Regions from separate parts of the Homo sapiens genome. Here regions 2, 3 and 4 are each linked to region 1. Evidence: fine-mapped expression QTL. A gene starts in region 1. Each other region holds a variant in brackets. All regions are shown on one strand. Distances are from middle to middle. Region 1 holds the start of ATP7B (ATPase copper transporting beta). Region 2 overlaps ATP7B (ATPase copper transporting beta). Region 3 has its middle 34 kb from the start of CCDC70. Region 4 has its middle 4.3 kb from the start of TMEM272.

Region 1 (7,745 bases):
CAAGGCTGTAGTAAGCTATGATCATGCCACTGCACTCCAGCCTGGGCAACAGAGCAAGACTCTTATCTCTAAAAAAAAAATTAAAAAAAAAAAGCCCTCCAGATATTGCCAAATGCCAAATGTCTTGCGAAGGGCAAAAATCACCCCTGGTTGAGAACCAGTGGTTTACACTGCTTATATCTACCAATATTTAGCATATTAGAAATGAAAACTAAAGAACTTTAAACTTTTTATGAATTCATTTGAAAATAAAAATTCTTTCATAACACATTAACATATTTTTATTAAAAAACTATCTTTTCCAAACCAAAAAAAGAAATTTAGCAAGAAGGGTGCCAATGATTTACACTTTTTGCAAATCTTTTTAATGTCTGGCTTAACGTGAAACCAGATAGTGGCTCCTCCTTTCTGTTTCTGCATTCAATCTAGTGATATGTTGTTTTTGTTGAAGTATATGAAGAAAATTCAGGCTAACTTAGACATGTAGTAGGAAAAGGGAGTATATTTTAATATATATTGATCTTATGTTTAAAATATATTTAACTTTTCAGCTAGTTACAGATATTCTTCTCTGATGCTAGACCACATTTGACAAGTTATGCAGTTTCTTAATGTCAGTTGCAATACAGACTCTGAAACCCTATCAATGACCTTTTCACACTGTTAATTAAAATCCACTATCACTTAGTTTTATCCGCTATCACTTTTGCACTTATCAACATAGTAAAATAGGCAAATATTACATTAATGTTATTATAAAAACAGATTTGTTGAGGATCCATTGAAGGGCCTTGGGACCTGCATGGTCCATGGAGCACAATTTGAGAACCACTGCCTTAAAGGATGAACAGAGTCTGACAAAAGTGGTAAGATTTATCATTTATTTAACATTTGGAATATATGAATTCATAAAAGCAACACTACAGAGGACAGTTTGCTTTCTCAGGACACTCTTTCAAAAGCTTATTTAAAATGCAGCTGACCCATATAATGTAAAGGTTTTTCTGGCAATTCCTTCAAATAATTTAGGTGGGAAAATTCATGTGACAAGCTTTTCAAACTGAACTATTAAACATTTAACTTAAAAGCTGCATAATAACTAAAGTTAAACCTGTCCTTTAAGTCTGGTTAGTGAGTTTATTTAAACATTATAATGTAAAGCACTGAGGAATATTACGTATGACAGGGAAGAACCAAAAGGCTCTGATAACAGACTTTCTCATTCAAAATGTTTAAAGTAATGATTACAGAATTTGAAGTAGAGTGGACAAAAACGAAGAAGAAATGCCTGAACTTTTGAAAGAATTAGGTATATACTGCTATTCAGGAAGCTATGGTGTTAATTATAAATTTTCAGCCTGAACAAAAATATGTAGGTGGTAAAAAAACTAGGTAGGTAGAATATACTAGGCCTTCTGTTTTATTAGTGGAGGGCAAGGCATTTAAAATACAGTAGTACTACAACAACAAAGGTGGAAAAAAGCCTGGGAGTTTTTTCACCAAAATGTTAACAGTGGCTATCTCCGGATGGTAGCATTCCTGGGGTTTTTTCCTTTTACTTATCTATTTTCTAATTTTTCTAGAAGAAACAGCATATACACGTAATACAAATAAAATAATATTTTATGTAACTTCTTACATCATAAAAATTAAAGTAACAGATTATCAAAAAGCAGAGGATTCAACATAAGCTTTATATTTAAGTGACGTGTTAACAATGGCAGTTTTGGTGAGTTTAAGAGTAGAAACTAAGATGAGAAGGAAGATCCGGTTTCTTCTTTACCGAAAAGAGACATGATAGATTGGAAAATGTCTCGTGGCTCAATCGTAAAGAAAAATAAGGAATGAATATGAATAATTTATGACAGACTAACTGGAGTGTGAAAGGGAAAAAAAAAGCTGAAGCAGGGAAGGGAACTCGACCCCTCGGCCAACAGTGAAGCAGAAGAAAACGCGGTAAATTGAGTCTTTAAGACCTAGTCTATTCCAGTCTATATAGAAGACCCCCAAGAAAAAGAAAGACTGCTCATTGGCCTGAGAAATTACCTTAGATTCATGACAAGGAAGGCCATTTGCCCGCAAAATTTAGCTACACTGGACGGGCAAGTACCCCTACAGAAGAGAAAACGTCTGTGAGCCCACACGACCGGCTGCTCACCTCAACAACTTGCACAGGCACCAGCTCCTTTCGCCGGCCGCCATCTTCCGCCGACCCCCGAACTCAGGAAACGCTTCACTTTCCTTTTCCCTATTGGCTCCTGAGAAAGCAAGCCGTGCTCGCCCCGCCCCCACGGGCCAATTGTGCGTTACTATTGGTTACTGGTAGCCGCTTCCCACGGCCTTCCAGCCAATAGAATATGCCGAGGCGTAGACTAGTGTTCGGCGTGGCGCACACGGCTCCCGCCCCCGTGGGCGGGACAGCAGTGGGGGGTTGGGCTGAGGAGGGCGTGGCCTGTGATTGACAGCCGTCGCTCCCTCCCTCGGCCACCTCCCCCACTAGAAGCCCCCGCCTGGGCGCCTGCGCCCCCGTTCCCGGCCCAAAGCCCGCCGCCCGTTGGAGGCCATTGGCTGGCCTTTGCGCACAGCGGATCGATTTTCCAGGTGCGGAGTTCACTCTTGCCGCGGTTGCTTCCTTTGGGACCCACGGCGTCCGGCAGCCAGGCGCAGAGTCCGAGGAGGGGGCAGCGCAGAGCGGACCCGACGCGGCGCCGCCGGGCACCTTCCCCGCAGGCGGTGGGTGAGCCCTGGGAGCTGAGTCTGCGGCCCGGCTCTGCGCAGCTCACCTGCCCTCCCGCTCCCGCACACGCGTGAGATCCCAGTACAGTGTCGGAGCGCACCAGCGCGAGGTGGCCGAGACCGCGGAGGAGGACAGGCCTCCGCCCTGCGGCGCCGGCACGGCAGAGGACATTGTGGCACTGGCACGGCAGAGAACACTGTGGCACCGGCGGGGCCGGCAGTTCCAGGGTGGGCACTCCCAGCCACCTGGGGAGTGGGCGAGGGTCCGAGGCCCACTCTCCCCTCACGCTCTCATCCCCGTGCCCCCAGGTCGGGAGGACGGCGGCGCGCAACTTTGAATCATCCGTGTGAAGAGGGCTGCGGCTTCCCCGGTCCCAAATGAAGGGGCGGTTCCCGGACCCCTGTTTGCTTTAGAGCCGAGCCGCGCCGATGCCCTCACACTCTGCGCCTCCTCTCCCGGGACTTTAACACCCCGCTCTCCTCCACCGACCAGGTGACCTTTTGCTCTGAGCCAGATCAGAGAAGAATTCGGTGTCCGTGCGGGACGATGCCTGAGCAGGAGAGACAGATCACAGCCAGAGAAGGGGCCAGTCGGAAAGTGAGTTTTGTTCCCCCGCGTCCGCGCAGCGTGCTCACTCCCACCAGGAGGATTTTCCTCCCCGCGTTCGGCGCTTACTCGCCCCCAGGGGGTGCGCAGGGAAGGCCGAGCCAGACCCCAGCTCCAGGGATGTCTTGGCGTGGGAGAAAAGGACCCTTTAGAAAAAGTGTGCCGTCAACTGATGTTTGGGAGCAATGGAAAACCCCGCACCTCAAAATTCATCTTTATGCTTTTAAGGGGTCTGATGCTGGAGAGATAAAGTGAGCGTCGAGTTGCTGTGCTAGAGCCCTAATGGCTCAAAACGATGAAGTTAGTTACCTGGAGAAGTTACTCAGAGCCTGGTGCTTGGACCAGATATGGTATATCGAGGTCCTGGAACTTTTATAACTGTTTTAAATTCATTTTAATTGTACAAGTAATACATTAAGACAGTCTTTTAAAAATGGAAACAGCACAGAAATATTTTGCACAAAAAGCAGATCTATTTTTCAGTCTTTTTCTATTCACGTACATATGTCTTCATTCGGCAAATATTTATTGAGAACTTTCTATGTTTCAGGCACACAGTGTTGAGTTGATACAGTGGTTAACAAGACATGTATCTATATGTAATATGCACACATTCAGAGAAATCTTTAGGTTTCATTTGTATGAGGTGTTAAAATTTTTGTTTTACCTAAATGAGATCACTGTATGTGCATTCTCTTTTTTCAGTTTAACGATATATCTTAGAGATTGTTTCACTAACTGTCTAATTCAGTGCAACCTCTGCACAGTTTGGACGCATCATAGTTTATTCATGGTTTCCTAGTGGTGGACGTTCTGTTTGCTACTTTTTTTCTCTCTCTCTTGCAAGTGAACATCTTTGTACATGATTTTTAATGCTGACACTATTTCTTTAGGATAGATACTTAGGCCTGGATTGCTGGACAGAACAGTAGGCTGTTTCTTTTCCACAGATTTCTGAAACTAATTCACTGACGTTGCTGGGTGCCCTTTAGTAGTGAATTCATCTAGGCTCCGGTGATACAGAAATGAAAACTAACGGATTAGTGGACAGACAGAGAGAGGCTGGTTAGTAGGTGGTTTGTAGGGTATGATGACTATGCATTTGATAGGAGTATGAAGAAATGTTGGGAGGGGTGGCTTGTACAGAGGAGATTTCAACTTCCTACAGTGTCCCCACCTAGAGAAAGAAATCATTATCCTTCCAAATCAAGCTCAAGACCTGCCACCTCCTTGAAACGTTCTGTAACTGCTCCTGCCCATGTTGACCTGTCTTCTGGAATCCTCTGATAATAGCGTTGACCAGCGTTATTGAGCTTACTGTGTGCTGGGCATTGTGTTAGGCACTCATATCCCTCTATGTGCACTCTCGCGTTTAATCCTCACAAAAACCCTTTGATGTAGGTATTATATCTTGTTATCAACATTTATTCAACAAATTTTTTTGTGTGTACTATGTGCTCAAACACATAGTACTCAAAGTTTTAGACACTGGGGATTTAGGTAGGACCGAGACCTTGCCCTCATGAATTTACATCCTAGTTGGAGATAGGAAAAAAAAAGGGATAAACAAATGTATAGCGTAGGAGTTAAGGGAAAACTTTTGTGCCCCGTGAAGCGTCACTGAAAAATCAACTGACAAATGGCAGATTAATAGGAGAGAAGGCATACACATTTACTAACGTGCCGTGAGAGTCTTACAACATAAGATCTCAAAGGAAGGCAAGGTGGTTGCCACAATTATACTATCCTGAGGTTACAGAAAGTGTGGGGGCTCTAAGCTTGGCCAAAAACAGGTTATGGTTGTAAATCAGGTTATAGGAGGGAGAGAAGAGGAGACCTGGCTAGCAAAGGTGGTCTTATGTAGATGAAACCTCACAGGTAGCAGCCCTCAGGGAGAAGAAATGTTTCAGACCTTGAAGGTGCCAAATTCAGCTAATCTCACCCAGATCCAGACAAGGAAGGGCCCTCTGAGAAAAACTGGCTGCGTCAATGGAGGTTCTCAACAGATGCTCATCTCCCTCACAGTAGGACTACTTTTGTCTGTAGGCCCTCTGAACGGCCATCTCAAAATATTTCCAATAAGTCTGTTTTGAGGTGAAATGTTTTAGTTTCCTTCAATAGCTTTATTTCAGGTACTAGTAAGTACTATGAAGAAAATAAAGCAGTTTGGGTCCAGGAGTTCAAGACCAGCCTGGCAGCATATCAAGACATCGTTTATACAAAAAAAAAAGAAAAATTAGCTGGGCATAATGGTGTGTGCCTGTCGAACCAGCTACTCGGGAGGCTGAGGCAGGAGGATGGCTTGAGCCCAGGAGTTTGAGGCTACAGTGAGTTGTGATCCCACCACTGCACTTCAGCCTGAGTGATAAAGCAAGATCCTGTCTCAAAAAAAAAGAAAAGAAAAGAAAGCAGAATAAGGGAATAAGATAGGGATTGACATGGGTGGAGAGGAAGATGCTGTTTTAAGTAGGTGGTCAGGGAATGATTTCTCTTGGAAGGTAGGATTTGAGTAGAGACCTGAATGATTCAGATTTCAGAGAAGTAGCCTAGGTTGAGAAACCATAAAGTGTGAGAGTCCTACGGCAGTCATGTGATAAGAAGAAATATATACTTGGTCTTGTCCCAAGTTCCTGACATAGAGCTTCTTAAACCGTTGTAATTTCCTGAGAGATGGTGATAAGAGCATCTTTTGTTATTCATAACAAGTCTCTTTCACCCCTACCTGAGTTTCTGTTAATGAGAGGGCTCTTGATAGGCCCCTAGATAGCTTCAGGATGGAGACTGATTGCCAGAAGAACCAACCATGTGATTAGGGGATTCGAATGTTCAGCCCCGTGCTCCAACCTCTGGAGATTGTGCCAATCACCAGTGGACAATGATCTAATCAGTGATGCCGGCAGAATAGAGCTTTCTTTAAATTTTTATTTATTTAGTTTTTTGAGAGGTAGTCTCACTCTGTTGCTAGGCTGGAGTGCAGTGGCGGGATCTCGGTTCACTGCAACCTGTGCCTCCCGGGCTCAAGTGATTCTCCGGCCTCAGCCTCCTGAGTAGCTGGGATTACAGGCGCACGCCACCACACCCAGCTAATTTTTGTATTTTTAGTGGAGACGGGGTTTCACCATGTTGGTCAGGGTCATCTCTATCTCTTGATCTCGTGATCCGCCCACCTCGGCCTCCCAAAGTGTTGGAATTACAGGCGTGAGGCCACTGTGCCTGGCCTTTTTTTTTTTAACCAATGCAGTGGATCACAAATAGAGCTTTCTTAAAAACCCTAAATGATGGGTTTTGGAGAGCTTCCTGTTAGTGAACACATCAAGGTGCTGGGAAGGTGGTTCCTGGAAAGGATATGGAAGCTCCTGGAAACCTCCATTCCCATATTTTGCCCTATCTTTTCCATGTGGTGGTTTCTTAGCTGTATTTTGTATAATAAACTGGTGATATTAAATAAAGTGCTTTCCTAAGTTCTGCGAGCTGTTCTAGCAAATTACCCAACCTGAGGAGGTAATTGTAGGAACCTCCTGACTTTACAGTTGGTCAGGAGTACAGATGGCCCAGACCCAGCGACTGGCATGTGAAGTGTGGGCATTCTTGTGGTCTTGTGGGCCTGAGCCCTTACCTGTGGGGTCCGTGCTAACTCCAGATGGTTGGTGTCGGAATTGAATTGAATTGTAGGGCACCCAGTTAGTGTCTGGAGAGAGAGCATTGGTTGGTGTGAAGAAAAACCCCACACATTTGGTGTCAGAAGTGTCGTGAGTGGAAACAGTACAGAAGACATGATGTTAGAGTTTGGGGAACAATAGGAAAGCCAGAGTGGCTGTGGCAGAGGGAAGGAGTGGGAGTGATAGAACAGGAGATCAGAGTTCATCATTGCTTTACAGATGGGGAAACTGAGCCAGACACAAGTTAAGTAACTTGCCCGATGTACCTTGCTTATAAGAGGCAGATCTAGGATTGAGTCCTAGCCAGGCCTGCCTGACTTTCTCAGCGATTTTTTATTGTCAAAACTTACTTGACACTTGGTCATACCACCTGGTATGATTATTTAATGAATATAGCTTTTATTTGCAACTCTGTGCTTCTTGAAATGGGAACCGGGTTTTTACCGTTTAAAAAACTATTTCCCACATGTAGGTGCACCACAGTTGTTCTTGAATGAATGGATTCTCGACATGATTTCTCCACATTGTTTTCTCTTCAGAGGCCTCTCTGTGGGGCAGCAGTGACCTGGTCATTCAGCCTTCAGTCCACAAACATTATGGAGCACTTTCTGTTTGCCTGGTACTGGGCCAAGCAGGGGGATGCATAGATGAAGAGAGGTCAGCCCCTGTGCTGGATGCATGCTGGGACAGAGCTGTCTACATGGTACAGCACCCACAGAAGGGGCAGAAAAATTCCTTCAGTG
Region 2 (4,793 bases), 64 kb after region 1:
AATCTCAATGGCATGATAATATTATTTAATACATTTTAAGAAAAATATCTTTTGATGTATATATTTACCAGTACCATCTTTGACCTCCCAGCTTCCCAAGTAATGTAAATAGCTTTTTATGTTTGTTTGTTTATTTATTTATTTATTTGAGATGGAGTCTCCCTCTGTTTCCCGGGCTGGAGTGCAGTGGCTTGATCTCGGTTCACTGCAACCTCCACCTCCCAGGTTCAACCAGTTCTCCCGTCTCAGCCTCCCAAGTAGCTGGGACTACAGGCACACGCCACCACACCCAGCTAATTTTTGTATTTTTAGCAGAGATGGGGTTTCACCGTATTAGTCAGGCTGGCTTCGAACTCCTGACCTCAGGTGATCTGCCTGTCTCGGCCTCCTAAAGTGCTGGGATTTCAGGTGTGAGCCACTGCACCCAGGCGTGAATAGCTTTTTATAATAGTTAAATATTTACTAAACATTGTATGTGAGGCAATGGAATATACATTTTTGAGTTTAAAAAAGTGGTTGAAGAACACTATCTTAGGAAATATGGTTTTATTAAACCTCAGAAAAAGAAAGGAAAATACAGGCCACCCCTCAAAAAAACATATCTGCTTGAGGAATAAAAGCTATATTACATCTGTGATTCTCAGTTGGCAGCTGTGACATTTTCGGTGTTTGTGACTGGGGGGATGCTGCTAAACATCCTGCAAGGCACATCACAGGCCCTACAACAAAGAGTTATCTGGCCCCAAATGTCAGTAGCACTGAGGTTGAAACCTTGATAATGTACTTAAAAAGCTAATGGCACACTTAGAACAGTATTTGGTAATGGCACAATGAGCGGAACAATGTTTTTACCTTATCTTATTCCTAGCCCAGTCTAGTGCTTGTTATACCATAGAGCCATAGAATGAGAAACCATACTGGGTGTGGTGATGCACCTGTAGACTCAGCTACTTGGGAGGCTAAGGCAGAGGATCATTTGAGTCCAGGAGTTTGAGGCTGTAGTGTGCTATGATCGTGCCTGTGAATAGCCACTGCACTCCAACCTGGGCAACGTAGCAAAAAGTACAAATACAGAATGGATAATTTTTTTCTTTTAAAAAAAATCCTTCACATAATTAAAAGTATATCAAATATTCTCAGGACACATGTCATTTACTAGGATGTATTTTCTCCCTCAAATTTCCCATCTTAAATTGAACAATGTTCAAGTTAAACACTTTCTGACATCTAAGGAACCTCAGTGCTCTTAAAAGTAACTTACAGATATATTGGTAGAATGTGCCTGTGGCTATCCATGGCACCTGACTGCCTATAATTTCGGCTTTTTCGGGAAAGCAGTGCGTTGGCATATGGCCATGGGAAGACTCAGTCCTAAACAAGTTGGAATCTGTGGCTTTCTGCTGTTCCATGCCTTTCCATCTTACTTTGGCTTCTTTTGTTTTTATCTGCAATATCAGGGAGGATGCTGGCAAATGAGGTACTGCATGTTCCTTTAAGATACTGTCATCTCTCTGCTGTACAAAAGTCATTGTAGAGAAGGGCTCATGGTAACTTCCAGAAGTCCACCCAGTCCTATCAGAATGCCAGGTGTGATTTTGACAAGAATTAGTGTATTTTTAAAAAAGATTACATAATCTTTATGTCTAAAAATCTTAATATATCCCTCTACCTAAATATAACTGTTTCTATGAAAATTAAAAGACCCCTTTAATAATACATTATTTTAGAATCCTGCCTTTCAGAGTGAAATAATAAAATGTAGATGGAAGCTAAAGAGGCTGTGGTCCATAGCCTTACCTTAGACAACTGTGCTTTTTACTATAAGTAAGTGAACATAGTATCTCTTGATTATACTCCATAGCCACCAGCCATTTTTAAAAATAAACCAAGATAATTCAAGCTCTCAGAATGCAAATAATACCAAGTGTCTGGAAAGTAGGTCATATTTTGTTTGTTTTGGGTACAAAGAAAAAATAGTGAAAAATACAGAGAAGAAAATAAAGATACCTCCAAATCATATCCCTAGAAGTAATTTTTTTGCATATTGGTGGATACCTTTCCAGTATTGTTGAAATGCTGTATTCAGATACAGGCGGAGATTTTTGCACGAATAAATCCCAGCACATGCGATTTTGTACTTGCTTTTTAATTTTGCAGTGCTGCTGGTACCTTTCCATATCAGTATGTTCCATCATCATTCCAATAGTTGCCTCGTATCCCATTATATACATCACACCTACAGTTTAATTAACCAATTCCGTATTGGTTGTTTCCATTTTTTATCATTACAAAAACAAAACAAAACACTGTGGTAAATATCCTTGCATCTTTTCTTATTTATATGATTATCACCTTAGAATAGCATTTTTAAGCTTTCCTAATGATGAGAAAAATAACGATAATAGTTACTGTTTCTTAAATGCCGCTCCTATGCCAGGTGTTATGTACTGTGTATATTTATATGTTTATATGTGTATTGCCTCATTCAATCCTTGCCACAATTTATGAGCTATGCATTATCATCTCCATTTTGTGTATGAGGAAACCAGGATCTGGATCTGTGTGGTCCATCTCCAGAGTCTGCTTTCCCCTATCAAGGGCTTTTATTTGACTCTGCTCCTGTAATGCCTCTTTGAGGGAAACCTGTAGGATGAAGTTGGATAGCTGGGATGTGGAGAGCAGTAACGTGTTCTCTATGATGGCAGAGCAGTGTGGAATACCATCTGTTTCCGGAACCCAAGTTCGTCACGTTGTGTCCAGTGCCCCCCTGAAATGTCCTTATGTGATTAGAGTTCTGGGAGCTTCCTTATTGAACTCTCAACCTGCCTCTGACTCTGTCCTGTTTTCAGAACCCCAACAAGCACATCTCCCAGACAGAGGTGATCATCCGGTTTGCTTTCCAGACGTCCATCACGGTGCTGTGCATTGCCTGCCCCTGCTCCCTGGGGCTGGCCACGCCCACGGCTGTCATGGTGGGCACCGGGGTGGCCGCGCAGAACGGCATCCTCATCAAGGGAGGCAAGCCCCT[G/A]GAGATGGCGCACAAGGTCAGCCTGTAGCACGGCTTTCCCCATCCTGAGAGATGAAAGTAGTATCTGTTTACTATTTCACATTGAGAGAAAAGCCTGAGAGCCACTCAAGACAGCAGTGTTAATTACATAGAATAGGAAGTCAAGTATAACTGGGAATAACAACAGTAGCAACAGAGTAGCCACCAGTCATATAATGGAACGCTTTATCAACATTACTTGATTTAATTGCATTAACAACTCTGTGTGGTAGGTGCTTATCATTCCCATTTTACAGATGAGGAAACTGCAGCAGGAGGAGATTAGGTAACTTGACCAAACGCCTGCAGCTAACCAGAGGCAGAGCTGGGATTCACACCCAGGTAGCCAGGCTTCAGGACAAAAGCCCCACCGTGACATCTGTGGGATTAGTGGTGGGTCCTGTGACCCTGGGGAGTGAAGAGTGAGTGACGGTGTTTGTGAAGAGTCTTCCTTTTGCCCAACTTACTAACCTCTGGCCTTCCACACTTTCACCTATTTAATCAGTATTTGCTGGGCACTCACTGCGTGTGAGCCCTGCACTGGGTTCTGGCGATGGTCATGGTTTCCAGCCGCCAAGGAGCCCACCAGGGGGAAAGACAGACAGTGAAAAAGTAAATAGCAAAGCTGACTGAGTATTACGAGATACTGAGTATTGACTGGTGGTGCTTGACGTCCTGGGGACACTTGAACAGGGGCCAATCCTAGACTTGGGGTGCTCGACTCAGGGACAAGGGTGCTGCAGGTGGTCAGGGAAGCGAATACGAACGTTCATCTGAGACCTTACTGTTGAGTGAGAGCTGGACAACGGAGCTGGGGAAGAGTGTTCCAAAATGGGGACAGAAGGTGGAAAGCACCTGTGGAGGTGGAACTTCCCCTCCCCGCGGTATCCCCAGCATCTAACCTGAGACATCAAGTGCATTCAGAAGTTATCTGTTGAATGAGCAAATGAGGAACTGGAAGAAAATCATTGAGAGAGAGGAACCAGAGATGAGGCCGTTGAGGGAGGGGCCAGAATCCAAAGGCTGAAGATTTAGTAAAGTGTTCTGAACGTTAGCCTAGAAGCCACGTAGGGGATGGCATACCCACGTGATGTGACTGGATCGTGTGTTGGGAAGATCATTCCGGCTGCAGTGTTAAGGTTGCGCTGAAAGCTGGCAAGAATCCCTGGAGGAAGATGAGTTAAGTGTGTTGAAGGAAGGAAGGCCACCGCTCAGCATCAGAAACAAAAAGCTGAATTATTGTTTGCTTGTAAGGGAGAACCCTGCTTGTGGGACATGGTCTGAGAAGAGCAACCTGCTGGCCTTAAATGGGTAAAATTATACACTTCAGGAATTACTGGACTTTCAGAAGCAGGGCTCAGGGCTCGACTGGCCCTGGTCATGGAAGTGCAGGTACCTGAATGTAGCTGCTGCCCATATCTGAGCCCAGAGGTGTGGGGACTCTGCAGACTGCCATTGACTAAGTGTGACCAACTTAAAACTGGCTCTGGGGGTTTGTTTGTCATTATGGCCATAGAATAGTCCTTTCCTTTCTTGAACTCAGAGTGTGAGGACTCTATTCCCAGTAGCTTTTGCACTTAGGCAGGCAAAAGGAAGCTGAGGTTGGGCTCGGCGGATGGCAGTGGACAGGGAGGCAGGTGTCCCTCAGGGTCCTGACTCCTGACCTGATGTGGGGGAGTATGTGGATGGTGTCACTGTCTGGGGGACAGTGCTGTGCCATCTCCTGTACAGCCGACTGAGGGTTTCT
Region 3 (7,745 bases), 110 kb after region 1:
GCCTTTTCTAGTGCCATGCGGTCTTAATTACTATAGCTTTGCATTAAGATCTGAAATAGAGAAACTTGAGTCCCCCAGTTTTGTTGTAAGATTGTTTCGGCTATTCTGGATCCCTTGCATTTTTATATTAACTTTAGGGTCAGTTTGTCAATTTCTACATAGAAGCCAGATGACATTTTTGAGAGGATAGTGTTGAATCTGTTCATCAATTTGGGAAATATTGCCGTCTTAATACTTAAGTCTTCTGATTCATGAACATGGCATGTCTTTCCACTTATTTAGGCCTTCTTTAATTTCTTTCATGATATCTTACAATTTTTAGTGTATAAGACTTGCATTTTCTTTGCAAGTGCCAAATGTTGCTGATTAGAAGTACACTGGAAAAACCTTTCAGTCGCTATACCCTTTTCTGGCTTTTATTACTGTTTTTAATTGACACATAATAACTGTATATATTTATGGGATACAGTGTGATTATGAAGCCTTGCACCTATGTTGTTTATCTCAAGTATTTTTTCTTCTAGATGCTATTGTAAATTGTTTCCTTGATTTCATCTTCAGATTATTCATCGCTAGTATATAGAAATACAATCGATTTTTTATATATTGACCTCATATCCTGCAACTTTACTGTACTTGTTCATTGGTTCTGAAAGCGTGTTTTGTGGATTTTCCAGATAAGAGATCATATCATCTGTGAATAGAGATAGTTTCATTTACTTACCATTATTCTTACTAAATGAATTAATAAGTAAGAGCTGTGGGAGTAAGACATGCAGTCTAGACAGTCTCTAGAAGGTGGCCTTGACAAGGCCAGCAGTGATCAGCAGTGGATGAGAACAGGTTTAGTACTGTGAGATTGGAGCAGGGATTGAGGCAGAGAAAGTGAGGAGGAATGACAGGCAGGTACAAGGTAGAATCAAGTGAGTGGTAGATCAGGAAATCCTAGATAACAGGTTGCCGGTGGCACAGTCATTTTTATTACCTTTTTAGCATGCTGGGTGCCTCTCCTGGAACACATTTAAAGGACCCAAAGGACTCCTTCCAACAGTGCCGTCTTAGCAGGAAAAAGATATAAGTCTAAGCCATTCTTGTTGGCTTTGTGCAGCCAGGATAGGCTGTGAAGTAGGCAAAGGGCAGAAGAGGAGAGAGAACTAACATTTATTATCTAGTATGTGCCAACATTTTGCATATATTGTTTAGTTTAACCCTTACATTACTCCTACTTTTGCAAATGTGAATCTGATGTTTGTTTTGTAAAACATTCAGAAAATGCATGATATTTATGTAGTGGTAGCTGCCATCACACCATAAGTCAGTTGCCCATTTCTCCATCCATGAGGCAGCCATCCTCTCTATTATAAGGAGCTCATTTCTCAATTAGTTCTTTGAAAACTGAAAAGCATGTAGATATAGAACAATATCCTGCATTAGTGCTTCTTAACCAGGAGTGTGTCAGGAGAAAAATCCCCAGGAGTTTCTTGTATTTCTGCATGTTTATGAGCAGGGGCACTGCACTTTTGTTCTAATTATCTTTTTATTTTATTTTATTTATTTATTTATTTATTTTTGAGATGGAGTCTCGCTCTGTTACCAGACTGGAGTGTAGTGCCACAGTCTCTGCTTACTGCAGCCTCTGCCTCCCAGGTTCAAGCGATTCTCCTGCCTCAGCCAGTAACTGGGACTACAGGTGCACGCCACCAAGCCTGGCTAATTTTTGTATTTTTAGTAGAGATGGGGTTTCACCATGTTGGCCAGGATGGTCTCAATCTCTTGACCTTGTGATCCACCCACCTCAGCCTCCCAAAGTGCTGGAATTACAGGCGTGAGCCACCGCGCCCAGCCCTTTTTTTTTTTTTTTGAGATGGAGTCTCACCCTGTCACCCAGGCTGTAGTGCAATGGCATGATCTTGGCTCACTGCAACCTCCGCCTCCTGGGTTCAAGTGATTTTCTTGCCTCAGCCTCCTGAGTAGCTGGGATTACAGGCACGCACCACCATGCCTGGCTAATTTTTGTATTTTCAGTAGAGACAGAGTTTAACCATGTTGGCCAGGCTGGTCTCCAACTCCTGACCTCAGGTGATATACCCACCTCGGCCTCCCAAAGTACTGGGACTACAGGCATGAGCCACTGCGCCCAGCCTTGTTCTAGTTATCTTTTCAACTATTTTTTTCAAGAAGATTATAAAGGAAATCATCTTGGCAGACAAAAATAAGAGTCCCCCTCCAGGGAAGACAGATTTTCTTACTGTGTATGATAATAAAGATAATTTTGGCCAGGCACAGTGGCTCATGCCTGTAATCCCAGCACTTTGGAAGTCTGAGGCAGGCAGGTCACTTGAGCCCAGGAGTTCAAGATCAGCCTGGGCAACATAATGAGACTCCATCTCTACAAAAAAAAAAAAAAAAAAAAAAAAAAAAAAAATTAGCCAGACATGGTGGCATGCATGTGTGGTCCCAGCTACTTTGGAGGCTGAGATAGGATGGTTGCTTGAGCCTAGGTCAGGGCTACAGTGAGTCATGATGGCACCACAGCAAGACCCTGTCTCCAAAAAATAAAAAAAAGACAATGTCTTACTATGGTGTAAAAGTTGGGCAGGTTTACCTGCAGTCCTTTCAGCCTTTCAAAAGATTTGGGTTTCTGAAACTTGGGGCTCCTCTGCTGTGATGAACCCAATGTGTGCTCTGTATTCACCTGGGCCACTCTGCATCACCCTGTGGTGCCAGAGAACAAAGGGAACCAACCTGAACATGAAGTTTATGCTGCTTGCTGTGCTTTGTTTCTGACTCAGGAGTCTTGTGTCTTCTGACGGTGTACATGGAACTGCGGCAGACTAACTCCTGTCAAGGTGCTCATCTAAATCACCTGTGGGGTTTCAAAAATCCATACCTGCCTGGGTCCTACCCCAGTGATTCAGATTCAGTATGTCTGGAGTGGAGCCCAGGTACCTGGGTTTCTTTAAGTTCTCTGAATTGTCCTGAGCACATGACCAACTGAGACCACTGTTCTCACAACAGTCAGACCCCCAAGCCGACCAAACTGGCCAAGCTTCTGGCAAGGATCAGTGCACAGTTGGAAGTACTCAGCCGGGTTCTGGAGACACTGTAAGAAGACCGCTGCAGGGGTGCCTCATGGGAAGAGATGGACCTCCTCTGGTGGTCGCAACAGGCTTTGTCTGATAATCACAGCATCCCCCTCTCAGGGCATCCGGCTGGGTGCATGGGGCATGTGCACCGACAACTTGAACAACCTTCCCCAGAGGGCAGTGACTGCAGAACCAGGACCTGCCCTGAGCATTTTAGCCAGGCTGTGAGAGGGTGCCCTCTCCTGGACATGCTGCTGCTGCTCACATAGTTCCTTCACTTAAAACCAAGTCTCTGAAATGATAAGAAAACTTCAATAATTATTCTAAAAACATACATTTGTGTTACACACACGTGTTTCTCTGTCTC[TCTCA/A]TACACACACACACCCCTCTAGAGCTATATGGCTTGTTATAGGCTTTGAAAATCTTTTATATTCACCAAGCTGTCCCCGATGGCACAGCTAGAAGGAGCTGGAGAAAAAGACAAGTCAGTCTGAAGCTTTCTTGTAGGCTGAGAGTTACATTTCCCACAGATTGGCTTCTCCAGGAAGGGGATGTGGAGTGTTGGACTTTCCTGTGCCAAAGTTGAGACTGGGGCCCTGGGGTTTGCTGAACACTAATAGAATTTAGCAGACTCTTGTTCTCCCTGAAGAAAAGAGCTTTTGAAAGCAGGCATTGTCCACAGAAAAGAGATGAAGTGTTTAGGCTAAGAGGAGGAGGGTCAGGCAGCTGTTAGAAGAGGCTTGTGGTTACGTTGGTTGCTATGTGGGAAATTTTTGTAAAAATTTAAAAAGGGAAAAAAGACCATGGCAAGAGCATCCTGAGTCTCAGGGGTTGTGTATTGGAATCTGAGAAGTGGAGAGGATATTTACCATCACAGGGGGGCTGTCAGATCACGGATGTTAAGCATTTGGCGCATTGGGAACACTCCCTACTGGTAGCTGTAAATATCATCATTAGCTGCATGCTCAGCTGTTTTATTTTTTCCCCCATCCCAGGGCAGAGGGTGGGGGGATGTAGGCAGTGGTGTCAGGGTCTAGCTGGGAGGAGTGAGGGGACAGGAGGTTGAAGATGAGGAAATGCCTGGTCTGCTATCTTGGTAGCCCTAGCTTCAGGCCCTGTCCCACAGGTAGATGGATAAATGTCCCAGGTGGAGCCCATAGCAAACACCCCTCTGCACCTTCCCACCAGAGTTCTTTTCAGGGCTATCCAAGAGACAGCCAGAATCCATTCCCTGCCTAAAGCACAGAGAATCTGACTTGAGCCACTGTCTTGTGGCTCGATTTCCCTGCAGTTACTACCGAGTGTGAGCCCCATCCATAAGGAATATTTAGAAAACCATCTTCAGAGGCAGTTTCCCACCCCACAATGGCAGCTGAAGAGGACAATGCTATCAGAGCCTATGCTGGTTATGGGTTCTCTGCAGCTCCCCACAAACCACCCCAATACCACATGCATCTCAGCCAGGCTGACCCAAGTTCCTTTTTCCTTTAAGTCAGGGGTCCCCAGCCCCTGGGCTATGGACCAGTACTTGTCCATGGCCTGTTAGGAACTGGGCCACACAGCAGGAGGTGAGTGGCAGGTGAGCAAGCGAAGCTTCATCTGTATATACAGCTGCTCCCCATCACTTAAATTACCACCTGAGCTCCACCTCCTGTCAGATCAGCAGTGGCATTAGATTCTCATAGGAGCATGAACCCTATTGTGAACTGTGCATGCCAGTGATCTAGTTTCCCCACTCCTTATGAGAATCTAACACCTGATGATCTGTCACTGTCTCCCATGACCCCCAGATGGGACCATCTAGTTGCAGGAAAACAAGCTCAGGGCTCCCACTAATTCTACATCATGGTGAGTTGTAGAATTATTCCGTTATATATTACAATGTAATAATAATAGAAATCAAGTGCACACTAAATGTAATGCACTTGAATCATCCTGAAACCATTCCCCAGCCTGGTCCATGGAAAAATTGTCTTCCACGAAACTGGTCCCTGGTGCCAAAAACGTTGGGGACCACTGCTTTAAGCGACTGCAGGCTCCATTTGCACATTTGGGTTTGCCCTTTTGCAAACTTCTCAGTCCTTTCGCGCCTTTCCTTTGAACATCCACTGGGCATCTGCTTCTCACCCTGCAGCTGTAATTTTCAGATTTACAGAACTTAGCTCCCCAGCAAAACCCCAGCCAACCACCATCGCCTCATCCCCAGCTGCAGTGATTGGCTCCAAGGGTGAATACGTCACCCAAACCTGGCCAATCAGAGTCCTTTTACTGAACTTCCACATGTAGGGCTCTTCTATCTTGGATTTTTATTACCTGGGAGGGCATAAAGCTGGTATTTCCTGTGCTGATGTCCCAGTCCCCTGACTCACAAAGAAAGAGTGTCTGTAGGGAGAGAGAACAGGCCCAACACATGAGGTGTGGAGAGCTGGAGAGCACTCATGCCTTTGCTTTAGTTCCTGAATCCAGTTGTGCCTGCAGCCACTTCTGTCCCTGTCCTTTCACAGTTATCTGTCCCAATACATCCCACTCCCTCCTTGATGATTTGAATTGTTGCTGACACTTTTTAACCTCTAAAGTTGTGATGACTACAAACTTGTTCCCCAAGCAGTTCTTCAATGCAGGGGGTGTGGTGTGTCTGTATCCATTTAGTCTCAATTTGAAGATTAGAAACTTGCTGGCCTGTCTCAGGCCTTCCAGGCTCCGTCCTGTGTGATGACTTCTTCCTTCTTTGCTCTGCATATAGCACTACTGTCTTCATCATTTATTACTATTGTGATCTTCGTTATTATTTAAATCATACAAAGTTCTGCATTGAGGATTTCATGTATTATATTTGTTTTCTCCACAACAAGATGACAAGCTTTTGGAATTATTTTTACATCTTAAAAAACAGTCTTTTCAGGACTGACCTTAATTCTGGGCACCTATCCAATAAATAACATTAATTAAATAAAAAACATTTTCCCAAACGCAGAAGCAACTGTGTGGCCTCCTCTGAGCACGATCACATTCCCTGGTGATCGAGTCTTCAGCTGATGCTGATCATTTGAATGTTCACATTCTCAATGTGAAGAGGCCAAGCAGAAGCGCATACGGTGTGAGCCAGGGGAAGAGATTTTTGTACAGCTCCTCTAAAGTAAACATTGTTTTGGGGAGAATCCCAGAAAAACACACATTCATCGTTGTTGCTGTTTTTTCCTGATTAGTCTCAGGACCACAGTGATTCTGAAGCAGCAGGTCCTGGTGAAGCTAAAGGAAGAGGGGGATCTGAGATTAGGGTGCAGGGAAGGAGGGACAATACTTCAGCACAGAAACAAGGCCCAGACTTTCTAATTTGGGATGCTTTTCGCATGTACTTCTTTACTGAGGGAGACAGAGCTTTTGATGCATTTAATACTGGCAAATTAAAATGGCTAAAACACAGATATAATTTAAGCTCTCTCCTAATCCTCTAAACAAATACTCGAGAACTGCAAAGAAAGAAAACTAAGCTAATCTCCATCTGAGAAGGTCTCCTTAGTTTGACTTCTGTTCCTGTGAACCCTTGGAGAGAAGGCCCTGGTACAAAGTCCTTGCCAGGGAGCTCATTGTTACTGCCAAGGACAGGTGGATGTTTAAGGAGTGTGTGCAGACAACTCAAGGAGCATGAAGGATGGATGTATGATGTTTGTCAGAAAATGGGAAGAGCTGAACAAATTAGCCAAGAACTTTTACTAGGTTCATTTACCTTTGTGTTGTAGTCAGGGTGCAGTAAAGAAAGGCAGGGAGTTTTGTGGACGGAATTTAATACAGCAGGCTAGTTAGAAGGACGTTATAAAACCAGGGGAGGGTGAGGCAACCCAGAGATTAGCAACTGCAGGAAGCCATTACCACTGCTAGGACGGAGGAACAAAGGGAGGGGACTGAGCCACCAGACCCAGGAACTGTGAGCTGGAACTGTGGAGGAGGGGCTGCATGAGATGCCACCTGAGGACCCTATGGCTGAAACCATGGGGGAAAGGCCATCATGGGGAATGGGAAATGGAAGCCAAGAAGAGGCTGTGTGATGGAGCTGGGTCCAAGGAGGAAATGTGGTCACCTACAGAGAGAGATGTAGTCACTGCCCAAGAAAAGACTGGAAAGGGAGGTGGAGCTGGTGTATTACCAAGTTTCCCTCTTCTTCCATCCATGCCTCCATTGGCTCAATCTAACAGGAAGCAAGTGGGCACAGAAGCCATCCCCCAACAATACCAAGCAGAGTAGGGGAAGGTGGGTAATGGGTCTGAAAGCAAGCAGATAACTTGCCTACCTGTGCCCCCTATTTTTCTGCCACACAAGTCTGCATGCTTTGGGGCACAGCAGATGTTCCAGGCTGAGATGAGATGACAATGATGATGAAAAACTGTGTACAGCGGAGTAGATGTTCCCACTTCCAGGCTTCGATAAACATAAACCAGTATATCTATTGATGGTTGACAGGAAAAGATTCCCAGTCTTCCAAGAGTCTCAGATCCCACCACCCCTGAGGGGCAGAGACTAGTCCTGCTCTTCCTGAGTTTCTCCACAGTCAGCAGGTGCCACAGGAGACTCAGATGAGGCAGGGAAAGGAGAGCCTTTCAGCTCTTCTCCCTGAGCCCTGTTTCCCCACCTCTTCCACATCTGGGTATGAAAATGGACCG
Region 4 (7,745 bases), 160 kb after region 1:
TGCAGTGGCATGATCTCAGCTCACTGCAACCTCTGCCTCCCAGGTTCAAGCGATTCTTCTGCCTCAGCTTCCCAAGTAGCTGGGACTACTGGCATGCGCCACGAAGCCCAGCTAACTTTTGTATTTTTTAGTAGAGATGGGGTTTCACTATATGTTAGCCAGGCTGGTCTCAAACTCCTGACCTCAGGTGATCTGCCTGCCTCAGTCTCCCAAAGTGCTGGGATTACAGGTATGAGCCACCACGCCTGGCCTGGGATTTTCTTAACATTTTCTTTTCTCCAGCTTACTTTATCGTAAGAACACAGTATATATAATACATATAACATACAAAACATATGCTAATTGACTATGCTATTGTTTCTGGTCAACATTAGGCTATTAGTAGCTAAGTTTTTGGGGAGTTGAAAGTTACACATGGAATTCTGACTATGCACAGGTTCAGTGCTCCTAAGCACTCATTGTTCAAGGGTCAACTGTATTTTTTTTTTTTTTTTTGACGGAGTTTTGCTCTTTTTACCCAGACTGGAGTGGTGCAATGGCGCGATCTTGGCTCACTGCATCCTTCACCTCCTGGGTTCAAGCAATTCTCCTGCCTCAGCCTCCCAAGTAGCTGGGATTACAGAAGCCCGCCACCACGCCCGGCTAATTTTTTGTATTTTTAGTAGAGACGGGGTTACACCATGTTGGCCAGGATGGTCTCGATCTCTTGACCTCATGATCTGCCCGCCTTGGCCTCCCAAAGTCCTGGGATTACAGGCTTGAGCCACCGCGCCCGGCCGCGGGTCAACTGTATTTTCCTGGAAAAGTAGATCAAACTGGAAAATTGCTCAAAGATGAAGACAATGACAACATAATCATCACTGCTCATGGCCTCAGTCTCTGTATTGAAAGAAGAGAACTGTTTCTAGCCACACCAGCCATAAAGGAATCATGCCCTGGAAGCAGGCTTTGTGAAAGAGGAGACTTTGTCATGTTCACTGCTATATCCACAGTGCCCGTTTTATAAAGAGCTTCTGAAATTGAGCAGACAAAGACCACCAACCCAATAGATAAATGGCCAAAGGATATGAACAAATTGGTTGCAGACAAATGCAAATGGCTCTTAAATATATGAAAAAAATTTTCAACCATACTTATAATTAGAGAAATGCAATTGATTAAGAAAACTGTTGCATTTCTCATCGATCAAACTGGCAAAAATCCAAAAGTTTGACAATACACTCTGTTAGCAGAGTTGGAAGGAAATAGGCCCTGCTATACAGTGCTGGTAGGAATACAAACTGTTATAACCCCCATGTATGGGGATTTGTCAGAAACTAAGAAAATTACACGTGAATTTGCCTTTTCACCCAGCAATTCCATGTCTAGAAATTTATCCAGCAGGTACATGTACACAATTACAGAAAGATACTTGTGTAGGTTATTCATCGGAGTATTGTTTGTAATTCCAAAAGATTGGAAGTAACTCAATTTTGTAGCAATAGGGAACCACTTACATAAACTGGCACATCCACAGAGCAAAGTACTATGCAGCTGTAAAAAAATATATAACAGGCTGGGCGCGGTGGCTCACGCCTGTAATCCCAGCACTTTGGGATGCTGAGGCAGGCAGATCACAAGGTCAGGAGTTTGAGAGCAGCCTGGCCAACATAGTGAAACCCTGTCTTTACTAAAAATACAAAAATTAGTTGGACATGGTGGCGTGCGCCTGTAGTCCCAGTTACTCAGGAGGCTGAGGCAGGAGAATTGCTTGAACCCAGGAGGTGGAGGTTGTGGTGAGCCGAGGACATGCCACTGCACTCTAGCCTGGGTAACAGAACAAGACTCCGTCTCAAAAAAAAAAAAAAAAAAAAGGTAAAACAAAGGTCTTTTCGTGCTGATTTGGAGAGATTCCCAGGATACATTATTAAGTGAAAAAAAAAAATGACTACAAATGTAGGGCGTCTTCTTCTTCTTCTTCTTCTTGTTCTTCTTCTTCCTCCTCCTCCTCCTCCTCTTCCTCTTCTTCCTCTTCTTCCTCTTCTTTTTTTTTGGTTACGGAGGAGGCAAGATGTCACTCTGTAGTTCAGGTTGGAGTGCAGTGACATGATCATGGCTCACTGCACCTTCCACATCTCAGGCTCAAGTGATCCTCCCACCTCAGTCCCCCAAGTAGCTGGGACTATCAGTGCACGCCACCACACCCAGCTAATTTTTGTACTTTTTGTAGAGACAGGGTCTTGCTGTGTTGCCCAGCTGGTCTCAAACTCCTAGGCCCAAGGGATCTGCCTGCCTTGGCCTCCCAAAGTGCTGTAGTACCTCTTCTTTTAAACAAATCTTAAAATTGGAAATGAACACATGAACATAACCATACATCAAATATATACCATACCCCTACAGAGGAAGGATTATGTCACATGATCCTAGGGCACACTTCTTTGACTCACCCTCCTTAGCGGGATATATTCTAAAGAGGAGAAGAACTTCAAATAAATTTGAAACTTCAACTTGGTCATTTTATTTTTGTAGAAGTGCTGTACTGTTACTTTGAAACATTTCTTTCTATTGTATGACAAAGCATATAAATACGTTAATAATGTTAGGATTCAAAATTTTCAGTATAAAAGAAAAGGGATACAATGATAAAAATCAAATAAATTACACAAAAGAGTATAGTATTAGATTTAAATTTTAAATATCAAAAAGTACTCATGATTTTAAAAATAGATATGGTATAGCTCTGTTTATTGAAATGGACCGGTAGCAACAATATCACAGAAGCAATGCATACCCCCTATCCCCACCTGAGAAAAAATTATTGGTAAAATAAGAATTAAAATATTATTTTAAATTTATTATAAATCAGCAAACATTATACTTGATGATAAAAGACTCAGGGCTTACTGTGTGCCCATAATTGCTCATTGATGTAAGTGTACCAGCTGACTGGTGTCTCCATTCTGACTGGGCAGGGCCCTTGTCTAGTTTTTACATTCTTTAAAAATATCCCAGAAGACATTATTAAAATAAAGAAGTGGATAGCATTCACCGTTTTGTAAATAATAACCAATTTATTAGGCAAAGAAATAAAACAAGTATAAATATTATAAGGAAATCATCATTACTTAATAGGTGATTTGGCTTAACACCTAATAAAGAGGGGGAGAGAGAAACAACGTAAAATTGTAGTTGATAATAGCAGTAGAATGCCAGTTCTCCCCAAATTTGTGTATAAACTTAATGCAATCTCAAACAAAATTACAGAAGGGTTTTTCTTTCCCCAGGGGAACATTTCAAGTAGCTGGGACTACAGGCACACACCCCTACACCCAGCTAATTTTTTATTTTGTTTTTTAGTCTCAATACATTGCCTGAGCTGGTCTCGAACTCCTGGTGTCAAGCAATCCTCCTGTCTTGGCCTTCTAAAGTGCTCGGTCACGGGCATGAGCCACTGTGTCCATCCTGTTTCTGAAAGAGACAGCCCAGGTCCCACTGAGAGACCACAGACGGCAGGAAGCGATGGGGAGGGAGGGCAAAGAGGCGCCAGTAGGTGGCGTTGTGCAT[T/C]TTCCCAACCCTGACACTTGCCCCTGGGAACTTAGACCCTCGGCCTTGGAGCCCAGGTTAAGGACAGGAAGACAGGAGAGTTATTCCTTTCCTCACACCCACTCCAAGGCGCCACTTCAGACCTGAGTAAAAGGGTTGAGGCGGGAAACCTGACAGCGGCGTGTCCGCGCATCCTCCCACAGGGCCTCTGCGACCGCTGAAATTGGGGCTGAAGAGACCCCGGGATTTTCTGGAGCATGTTGGACAACTGCCCGGTTCCACAGGGCCCTTAGAATGTTAGGCCTTGACTCCCCCAGCTTCTCAGATCCAGGAGTTTGTTTGCTTATTAAACTGTGCTAAAATACACATAACATAAAACTCAACATCTTAACCACTGAAAAATGTACAGCTCAGTAGTGTTAAGAATATTCACATTGTTGTGCAACCAATCTTTTTCATCTTGCAAAACTGAAATGCCACATCCCTTAAACAGCAGCTCCCCGTGCTCCCCTTCCTCCAGCCCCTGGTGACCACCAGTCTACTTCCATGTCTATGACTATTCTGTGTGCCTCACGTGAGTGGAGTCATACAGCATTCGCCTTTCTGTGGCTGGCTTATTTCTTAGCATAATGGCCTCAAGTTTGCAGCATGGGTCAGGGGTGCCTGTCATTTAACTCTTCTTCTTCCTGACTGTGAACTAGTTGTGGGACCATGCATTCTGTTTCTCTTTTTCTTAAATTGTCCTCAGGAAAATTAAAATGCTGGGAAAAGTCAAAAGGAAAATGAAAACTTATATTGAAATGCTTTTTGACTCAGGTAGAAGTCGAAGTGAGGGACCCTGAAGGTTTTCTCCCAAATTAGGAAGCCGTCAGGATGAATAGATGGTAAATATAGAAACGGTGACTCAAATAGAAGAGTGACATCAGAATGGAAAACTTCCAAAGAAAGCATGAAAAGAATTAGGATGTTTACATAGAACTAATTTGTTGGGGAATAACACACAAGCAAAGACGAAGACAAAGACAAACTTTTGTGCAATCTTGGGGAAGAGTGAGAGTGAACACTCATCAGTGTCCCTTGGCTTTCTGATTGCTCCTTTTGGAGGTGCACAACCTGGTCTTTGGGCAACTTTAGCATCTCCCTTCATTTCTACAGCTTCCATCAAGAAGTCAGGCCTACCCTCATTAACTCACAGTTGCCTTTGTAATTAAACTCAGGCACGTGCTCATTCACTCACTACTCTTTTGCATCAAAATTCCTTATAGGATACATGGATTTTATTAAGTAATCTTTTTATTCACAGTATCTGGCTTGGAGTCAGCAGTATTCATTCAATGAATGAATGAACTCACTTTTATGAGGAGAACCACCTCAACTAAAGACAAGCATTTAAAAATTTATACTCTGAATTCAACTTTCACTCAATTCTACTATCATCTCCCCTAATGTGCCCTTTATTCATATGGCAATAGTGGAGTGGTGCCATATGTGGACTCTATCACGTGGCCTGAATTGAAGTTCATTACACACTTAGTAGCCATATGCCTTTAATCTCTGTACCTTATGCTACTCATCTGTGAAGTGGGGGTATTAATCGCACCTACTTTGCTTTGGGCAGCATTTCCAGTGGTGGTCTTCCACTCACATCTCTAGGGTTAGCAACTGCTTCCACTGTCAGTTGCTAATCTCTGGGTTACTCCACCACGACATCGTGCATGACTTTTCAGCTCTTCCGTGGCTCTTGTAACTAATTCCCCATATCAGATTCCCCGTTTTTCTTAACTGATAGAGCTATTATTACTATCATTTATCATTACCTTTGGAGTCTCATAATCACTTTCCAAAGACTCCTACTTTCTCCCCCACAAAAATCTCCTATTTCTGTACTCATAAGTACAGTTGTCTGTTGGCAGAAAAATATTCTTTGATGTTTTGCTGCATGTTTGGGGACATGTGGAAAAGCTCCTGAGTGACCTGCCATTGTTTTCTCCCTTCCTGAACTCCCAGGAAGACTGCCTCATCACCTGAAATTTTGTTTGTTTTGATGTCAGGGCTAAAATGTGCTCAAAAAAGACTGCTGCCCCTTTTTGGCCACGTCCAGGCCAGGCTTATGGTCACCGTGTGCTCCCAGACCCCCACCACTTTGGCAGGGAAGCCTTAAGACTCTGACCTCACTGCTCACAGTCACTCTGCTTCCACTCACTCAGTGTGAGATAAGAGAAGATTCAAGTACCGTCATGTATCACTGAACCATGGGTATATGTTCTGAGAAATGTGACATTCGGCAATTTTGCCATTGTGTGAAGGTCATAGAATGTATTCACACAAACTCACATAGTATAGCCTACTACACACCCAGTGGTCCCCAATCTTTTTGGCACCGGAGACCAGTTTCATGAGGGTGGGGATGGGGAAGGTTTTGGCATGAAACCGTTCAACCTCAGATCATCAGGCATTAGATTCTCATAAGGAGTGTGCAACCTAGATTTCTGGCATGCACAGTTCACGAAGGATTTGTGCCCCTGTGAGAATCAAATGCCGTTGCTGATCTGACAGGAAGTGGAGCTCAGGTGGTAATGATTGCTCACCTGCCACTCATCTCCTGCTGTGGGGCCCGGTTCCTAAAAGGCTAGGGACCAGTACTGTTCCCAAAAGGCCAGAGACCATGGCATGTTACTGTATTGAATAATGTAGGCAGTTGTAACACTGTGGTAAGTATTTGTGTATCTAAACGTAGAAAATACTACACATAGTATTTGTGTATCTAAACATTGTGTACAGTAAAAATAGGATATGAAGGATTAAAAAATGGTGCACCTGTATAGGGCATTTACCATGAATGGAGCTTGCAGGACTGGAAGTTGCTCTGGATGAGTCAGTGAGTGAGTGATTAGTGAATGTGAAAGCCTAAGACATTACTACACACTACTATAGCCTTCATAAACACTGTACACTTAGGCTACACTACATTTATTAAAAATATTTTTCTTTAATAATAAAGTAACCTTAGCTTACTGTAACTTTTTTACTTTATAATTTTTTTTAATTTTGACTCATACATTAGCCCATACATTATACATACATTACATTAGCCTAGGCCTACACAGGGTCAGGATCATCAATATCACTATCTTCCATCTCCACATCTTGTCCCACTGGAAGTTCTTCAGGGGCAATAACAGGCAGGAGCTGTCATCTCCTATGATAACAATGCCTTCTTCTGGATACCTCCTGAAAGACCTGCCTGAGGCATTTTTACAGTTAACCTTTTTTTAATATATATAAGTAAAGGAGTACACTCTAAAATAATGATAAAAAGTATAGTATAAATACATAAAGCAGTGACTTCGTTGTTTTTTATTACTGTAAAGTATCATGTGCTGTACATAATTGTATGTACTTTACTTTTATGTGATTGGCAGTGCAGTAGGTTTGTTTACACCAACATCACCACAAACACATCAGTAATGTGTTGCACTACAACATTATGACTGCTATGACATCACTAGGTGATAGGAATTTTTTAGTTCCATTATAATCTTAAGGAACCACCATCTGTGTGGTCCATCATTGACTGAAACATTGTTATGTGGCTCATGACTGTGACTGTATGTCCTTTCCTCTAGCAGGCTCTCCTCCCCTTGCTCCTCTGCTTCACCCTGTCCTGTGGTGTGAAGTGGTCACCTTGGATTCAGGACTGGGAGAGTGGCAGGGCCAGCCCTAGAGTGAGCCCGGAGAGGTGCCCTCCTCCCAGGGGTGTGCAATGCAGGGGTAGCTTCAGAGGGAGCAGCTCCTTGCATTTTACATAATAGGCTCTTCTCTTGCCTCACACCAGTCCCTCCCCCAGTCCCTCCCCAGTAGACTGGCCTTTTCCACCGAAATGACAACAAAAAACCTGGAATGTCAGGGTTGGAGAATGCCTTTAAGTCATGTGACGCCAGTTTCTCTAAGTGTGGTCCATGGAGCACCTACAGGAGACTTAGCAGAGTCTAAACTGCAGATTCCTGGGCCCAGGCCCAGACCTACAGATTGAGAATCTTTGGGAGGTGGTACAGGAATCTGCATTTCAATAAAGAATCTCTGGCACTTCTTATAAATCAGCAGCTGAGAACTTCTACTGCTAGGTGCTTGCTTACAATACAGACACACAACAGCCTCACAAAGCAGCCTGCTTCAGGTCTAAGAAGGCCACTGTTACAAAGTTTATGACATGGGGCACAATT

What was found. PIP is the estimated chance that this variant, and not a neighbour inherited with it, causes the effect.
Region 2: its variant is fine-mapped to the expression of ATP7B in tibial nerve (GTEx, PIP above 0.99). The same link has a PIP of 0.9 or more in subcutaneous fat.
Region 3: its variant is fine-mapped to the expression of ATP7B in whole blood (TOPMed, PIP above 0.99).
Region 4: its variant is fine-mapped to the expression of ATP7B in whole blood (TOPMed, PIP above 0.99). The same link has a PIP of 0.9 or more in neutrophils.

What each region holds. Positions count from the first base shown.
Region 1 is chr13:52,006,876-52,014,620 of GRCh38, reverse strand. It overlaps ATP7B (ATPase copper transporting beta), which reads left to right and starts at 3,171. Exons shown (of 21, transcript NM_000053.4): 1 at 3,171-3,334. The coding sequence starts at 3,284. It overlaps ALG11 (ALG11 alpha-1,2-mannosyltransferase), which reads right to left and starts at 2,223. Exons shown (of 4, transcript NM_001004127.3): 1 at 2,159-2,223. The coding sequence starts at 2,202. RefSeq lists enhancers at 1,965-2,054, 2,105-2,234 and silencers at 2,355-2,454, 2,465-2,574, 2,625-2,964.
Region 2 is chr13:51,944,535-51,949,327 of GRCh38, reverse strand. It overlaps ATP7B (ATPase copper transporting beta), which reads left to right. Exons shown (of 21, transcript NM_000053.4): 13 at 2,850-3,044. Among named protein-coding and RNA genes, the nearest start is that of ATP7B, 65 kb to the left of the region's middle. RefSeq lists enhancers at 3,728-3,827, 3,888-3,957. The variant G/A (reference allele first, on the strand shown) is at 3,029.
Region 3 is chr13:51,892,043-51,899,787 of GRCh38, reverse strand. It overlaps a transcript of TMEM272 not described here. Among named protein-coding and RNA genes, the nearest start is that of CCDC70, 34 kb to the right of the region's middle. The variant TCTCA/A (reference allele first, on the strand shown) is at 3,454.
Region 4 is chr13:51,845,631-51,853,375 of GRCh38, reverse strand. It overlaps a transcript of TMEM272 not described here. Among named protein-coding and RNA genes, the nearest start is that of TMEM272, 4.3 kb to the right of the region's middle. RefSeq lists an enhancer at 3,698-4,198. The variant T/C (reference allele first, on the strand shown) is at 3,544.